Homo sapiens: one gene and its partner. The protein of the gene in region 1 purifies or fractionates together with the protein of each later gene. This does not show direct contact. Each region holds a gene or a part of one and is shown on either strand. Other genes may lie near its edges.

Region 1 (3,581 bases):
CTTTGGCACAGAAAATTGTGACTGTAACTTACAGGGTTTGAGCTAAAATGACCCCTAGTAAGAAGACATCAGAAAGAATAGCATCTACAAAAATAGGAGTGGGGAAAGGTGACTCTGGAAGAGGAGACCAAAAGTGAAAACATTTCTCTGCCAAAGTCACCTGCAGTTCAATACCAGATTTGATTGTTAAGAAACGGTCATCCTAAAGACAAGAACTTGATTCCACTCAGGAGCTCTGGAGAGAAGGTCCATGTCTGTTCCTGGAGGTCTAGTAGATCCTGCGTGTTGTGTAGTCCAGAACCATGCTGGCAGCACCCAGCAGGGCGGGGTCAACCAAATCCGAAACCACCACATCCACGTCCTGCACGGAGGACAAGGCCTGCTGGCGAATGACGTCTTTGACAATGTGGATATAGTGACTGGCCAGGACTCCGGAGAGGATCACAAGGGAGGGATTCATGGTATGGAGGATGTTCACAACCCCAAGACCCAAAGCTGTTCCAGCTATAGGGAGACAAAAATTAAAATGAGTTTCTGAGAGAAGCCAAAATCAAAATACCAAAGAGGAAGGCAGAAAAGAGCCAGCAGCAGAAATGTTAAAGAACATCCACGGCATGCAGTGGGAGGCAGTGTTTTAAAAGCAGTTCACGGTTGATTCTTAATATGAGAAAATGATCATGTGACAGCCTCAAGTGGAAAAAGCCGGGTGTACCACATGATCTCCACTAGGCAAAAAAATGAATAGAAAGACTCGAAGGAAATGTTAATAGTTGATACCTCCAAATGGGAAAACTAAGTGATATTTTTTCTTACAACTGTCCTATATTTCTCTAAATTTCCTGTAAAATGAAAGGAGCATTTTTATAGTTGTCAAACCAAACCAACCACCTGCTGAAAAAGGCAATGCTGCCAAATACCTTGAATCCAATTCCCTTTTTACCTCTGAGTAATTAGGAAAGAAACCTCTGAACAGACACTGCAAAGCACCTGTCCCTAGGGAAGCAGGGTCTCTTCTGGGGCCGGGCTGGGCCATATGATATCTGAGGCCACCCCCTGCAGCACAGCCACCTGCAGCCACATGCTCACCTGTTCTTAGGATGCTCTGGGCCTTCGCATTGCCAAGTTTCGCAGCTTGGATGAGATGGAGCGCACCCACAGCCTCATCTTTTGGCACTGACATCCCTTCCACCAAGAGCAGGTCCTCTGAACAGAGTGAGAAGGAAAAGCAGTCACTAATGAGCTGTGGGGAGGCCAAGCTCACCACTGGGCCTGTGGAAAGCAAGCCCCTACATGGGAAGACGGTGTTTTCTTTTCACAATTGCAAAGCTTATCGTTCACAAACATCTCTATACACTGCCCCTAAAGCCTTTGCTACCCTCTTGCTAATTGGTTGTACATAACCCAGAACCTATCTTCCTGGAAAAACCTCAAGTCTGACGACAGCCTCCTACCCCTCTGGCTCCCTCACTTCTCACTTCCAGTAGCAGACAGTCTTTGAAGTGTTCTTTTCTCCAAATTATCACCCTCCTCCCACATTCACTCCTTCCTTACTCATCCCAGACACAATGCTGTGCCATCTGCCAGCGCCACGCGTTCTATGGCAGCGAGGCACAGTGGCTGAGGAACAGACACAGGCCTGGGGTCAGTGCCAGCTCTGCCACTCCCAGCTGCATGACCCCATGCCTGTCACCTCACCTGTACACATTCCTCCTTCCTAGAAGATGAGACCAGTAGTGCCTCCCCTGGCAGGGTTATTTGAGGAACGGAATGAGATCATGGACATAAAGTATTTAGTTAAGTGCTGGCCACAGTAAATGCTCAGTAAGCAGCAGGTATTTCTGTGGTTATCTGTAGTCCTTGTCTTCTGCCCGTCACCAACTCAGATCAATCTGCCTCCTACTAATCTGCTAGAATATCTGGACCCTGAAGGAGAAAAATCCCCAGCTGTGCAAACTGCAACCTAGACATCAACTGGTGGTCTCCTGTCTCCCCTGGGCCCTCACAGCTCTCACCCATTCTCTCTGACTGCGCTTTTCTATACCTTCACCACCTTCCCAGTCCTTCTACCCCCACTGCCAACAGACGAGCATACTTCTTACCTCTCTCATAGGGGGCACCACCAGGCAGTGATCCCCTACCTTTTTGCTTCCTGTCCCATACACCCATCATCTCGGCTCGCCATGCCCTCTCGTGGACCCTCTGCCTGGCTTTGCAGCTCATCTCTTCCCACCTCTTCAGAACCCTACTGTAGGGCTCTATACACTTCTCTCCTGCACTCTCGGCCTCCACTCCCCATCTCTTTTCCTTCAGCATATGCTCACAAATTGGTTTTGGGGGCCAAAAATCTACACTGTTTTTATGTATGAAGCACAGATATACTACACATACAGTGCATGTATGTGTGATATATACATAACATGTTTTGTCCATTTATTTCTTCATTAAAATGTGTATTAAGTACCCTCCCTGTGATACTGGCTGAGAAAACAAAACTGAAGGAAATCTTCCCTGCTGTCTTGGAACTCTAGACCTCTGTCCACCACCACCCCTGGGGAGGAAGAGTGGCAATATGGGTCAGCCAAGAAGACTGTGCAGTTTTAGTGCGAGGGAGCCCTGCTCTTTCCCTAAGAAGTGAAAAGGGGGAAACTTCTGGCTTCAGTGTTCAGCTGTCTTTGGAATTTCCACTTTGAAGTACTTGTCTACTATTTGGTTACTTAATTCCTCGAGAGAGGGACACCAACCATCATGGAGCTTTTTTGCCTCCCTCTGCAAGGCCATTCCAGAGGCGTATGCTTCAATGCACCCATGGCTTCCACAGGAACAATCAGGCCCATCCAGAGACACAACAAGGTGGCCCAGTTCTGCAGCACAGAAGGAGCTTCCGTGGATCAATTCATGCTGATGGATAATTCCACCACCGATTCCTACAGCGAGGGATAGAAATCACTGAGGGTGCTTTACCTGAAACAGAAAACTATGATATCACAACGCCTCATCTATTTAGCAGAGCTTTGGCATGTGAGGGTCTATAGATACTTCTTTAGACAGCTGAAGCCCACTAGGCATCAAAGCATTCTCTGGCAGCATTTTGGATGGAAATGTTTTTAGCAGATCCTCTGATGCCCTGTGACCCATCTGCTTGGGTCACTGTGATTTCAAACACAGCTGTGGGGACAGTGCAGCAAAAATGCATGCCCACCTTGTGGGTAGCAGACCCCCTGGCCCAGCACACACTGTCCATCTTTCTGCACCAAGGCTTTCTCTAACACTGAAGCAAGAGCCTACTCAGCCACGCAGGCACAGCACCCAGGGGCAACCTGCAACCGAGGCAAGGCAGGAGCCGGCAGATCCACAGGACAATTCTGGATGCTGTTCTGCAGGCTTCTTAGGAGGTGCTAGTGGAGTTCAGCCCCCTTTGCCCTCAAGTCAACTTCAATAATGTTAATATATCCTTAATGGCTTTCTTCCTGCTCTGTTTCATTCTTCCCACTCACCCTCCTGCTTCTTGTGGTCACCTCCAAAAAACCATACCTGTACCTAAATCCTTGTCTCAGGCTCTGCTCTGAGGAATACCCAAGATA
Region 2 (2,988 bases), on another chromosome or scaffold:
AGGAGGAAGAATGGGTTCAAGATCATCATATTCATCAGAAGGGGACACTAAATAGAACCCTTAACCTGTTGTACTTGCCAAAATTGAGAATCAGAGATGTGTAAAATGCAGCAAATTAATTATAATGTAAGTTAAGATTTGCTTTTTGCCAAGTTGCAAAGTTGTATCCACATCAGGTCACTGTAAAAATGTATTATCTTGTAAAACTTATGTAAAAAAAAAAAAAAAAAAAAGGCAAAGATACTAAAAATTTTAAGTCCGACTTTATTTTTCCTACAAGTGTTTAGAAATGCTTCTGGGATTTGCTAATATTATCTGTCCTTGGGAACAGTATTGAAAAAACTGCTTAGTGGTATTACAGCTTTAGCAAACCTACCTCACAGCTGGGATGAGAGGATAAAATACAACTAATTTTGTACCCTATAGTGCCTAGAGCAGTCCAAGTGCTAAATAAATATTTACTGATTAAAACCAAACTATAGCTACTCGGGAGGCTGGAGGAGGATCGCTTGAGCCCAGGAGTTTGAGGCCATTCTGGGCAATATAGCAAGACCCTGTCTCGAAAAAAAAAAAAAAAAGAAAAAACCAAACTAACCAAAACTCTGTAAAAGAGTGCTTTGAGCTCTACAAATACCAAGTATTTATTGTGGTATATTTTTAGAATGTAGCCATACAGTGTAATTATGGGTATCTGTCATGGATCACAATTATTATTCATAGTAAGTCATTGTGATACAGAAGTTTGTTTCTTCACTTCCCCTTAAGAAGCCAACTATAGTAATCATGCAAAGTTGAGGAGTATGTCCTTCAGGGATATAAAAAGAAAAACAAATCTGTTTTTTGAGCTAAAAGAGCACATCCAAACAAGAATTTAACTGGCTAAAATTTAGTAATTACTGTTAAGTAACTATCAAACTTGAAATCTTACAAGATAAATGGTTAAGATGTCTTGAGTATTTGGGATGGGGGCCTGTGAGTCTGATTGAGACATACATTTTACAGAGTAGCAGCACTGGAAAGGGCTAGTCCAACCTCCCAGCCTCTGCTTGGGTCTCCGCTGCCCCAGCCACACACATCCTAGAATTCTTGTAAACATATCTGGCTCTGTGTTAACAGTCACTTGTTATATGTTTTCTAAGAGATTAGTTCTTCCTGTGATTTTTCCAAGTACGCTGAAAGTAGTAGTATGAACTTAAGGAGGCTAGTCAAAGAAACTTGGAGTTATAGGTATTTTTAAAGAATAAATCCTCAATTCCATCATCACTTGGCGGGGAGGGGGCACTTATTAAGCATTTTAGATAATAAAACTGGTTAAGCTTACTCTGGTAGAACAGACAATCAAATCTGGGGATTGCTGAGAACAATAATAAGCTGAAGTATGGCTCACAGAATCCTAACACAAATCATTAAGTCTCTAGTTAGATTTGTTATCCTAAAATTTTTCATAGAATTTTAAAATCTAATTCTGACTTGTATGGTTAAGAAAAGCAGTTAAATATTTTACTACTTATCAAGGGCTTTTAAAATAAATAAATCTGATTGATAGGAAGAAAGGCAAATAAATACCTATGTAGACATTCTATAATAACAAAGAGCCATAGATGATAAAGGAATTAGATTTTAATGTAGAATGGGTGGTTTCTGAAACAAAGGTATGTGGTACTTTGTAGTTATTGATGAGAAGCCAGTAACCAGTAGTGTTTTCCTAGATATATGCCCACCCTCACACAACTTTCTTCATTAACAAACATTAAATATGCATTTGTATCTTATTAAATTATATTGTATAATGCTGAAGGAAAACAAAAAGTGTTCAAATAATCATAACTTCTACATTACAGGTTCTGTTTAGATGCAGAACTAGAGGGGCCAGGGTAAATGTAGATAAAGAGATATATAGCACCATGCTTCTTAATGCTTCATACTTTTGCAAACAGAAAAAAAAAGTTTTACTTTTATTATAAAACTTCATCTATGGTCAAAGTAAACACTGTTACATTTAAATTGCTTTTTAAAAACAATTGCGATCTAAAAAGTCAAAAATCTGAAATTTAATAATATGAGACTTACACTGAATATAATGTTCATTTAGAAGTTGCTGTGGTCCACTTCATTTATAAGGAACAAATATTTTTACAGTACACTATAGCAACAGCAAAAGCCCTCTCTCACCCTGATAGGAATGGGTTTGCTGGGTGTCTAGAAGTTAGATTCCTGCTGAATAGAATTAGCCATCCTTAAAAGATTTTAATCCAATACTGAACTGTTTATAAAATGCTTTCTCTATTGTAATGTACTGTAAGTAGTGAAATTCTGTATATACTGCTATTTTCTGTCTGTTCATTGTTGTGAACTTCTTATGTATATTAGTGAAATAAATTTTCAGCTTTCATGTTGTTTCCTAAACATTCATAAGTATAACTAACTATTAAGAGATTTCTTCCTTTCTTGAGTAACAAATTTGGTGATTATATTCTTTCTGATCCAACCCCAAAAACTAGCTATTCTGAAAAGGCTGATGTTCACTAATGGGAAGAATGAAATGACCCTTCACCTCTTAAGGGAAACAGGCCTCCGCCATTCCCTTTCAAAACTATACTTCTTTTACTTGATACTCAAAACTTCTGCACCAAAATCAGTCAGTATTTTTCCAGAATGCCTTTATTTTCAGTATCATAGAATTTAAATACAGAGTCAAAAGATGATTTATAAAATATAAAACATTTTCTGCTTGGCCGTATTTGAAGACAAGCTGAATACATATCTATGTTCTGAATAAGTCCACTATGGATATATATAGGAAGAGATATACATATATCCATCCACAGATACACACACACATATATATTTCTGCATGTATATATACATAATTCTTTCTATAGTTACAGGAAATACTTCTTCTATAATTCTGATTTTGACTCCCATCCTCCACCATTTACTCATCCACTCATTACCTAAATCTTGGCTTTCTTTCCTATATTGTAAATA

The links.
Region 2: the proteins of GNE (region 1) and RAB3GAP2 fractionate together in Homo sapiens (co-fractionation; one large-scale study listed by BioGRID). This does not show direct contact.

What each region holds. Positions count from the first base shown.
Region 1 is NC_000009.12:36,217,097-36,220,677, forward strand, and holds part of GNE (bifunctional UDP-N-acetylglucosamine 2-epimerase/N-acetylmannosamine kinase), read right to left. Parts: intron 2,925-3,581; coding exon 2,742-2,924; intron 1,204-2,741; coding exon 1,087-1,203; intron 505-1,086; coding exon 269-504; 3' UTR 1-268. UniProt on the Homo sapiens protein: Bifunctional enzyme that possesses both UDP-N-acetylglucosamine 2-epimerase and N-acetylmannosamine kinase activities, and serves as the initiator of the biosynthetic pathway leading to the production of N-acetylneuraminic acid (NeuAc), a critical precursor in the synthesis of sialic acids.
Region 2 is NC_000001.11:220,147,697-220,150,684, reverse strand, and holds the end of RAB3GAP2 (rab3 GTPase-activating protein non-catalytic subunit), read left to right. Parts: 3' UTR 1-2,392; downstream 2,393-2,988. UniProt on the Homo sapiens protein: Regulatory subunit of the Rab3 GTPase-activating (Rab3GAP) complex composed of RAB3GAP1 and RAB3GAP2, which has GTPase-activating protein (GAP) activity towards various Rab3 subfamily members (RAB3A, RAB3B, RAB3C and RAB3D), RAB5A and RAB43, and guanine nucleotide exchange factor (GEF) activity towards RAB18.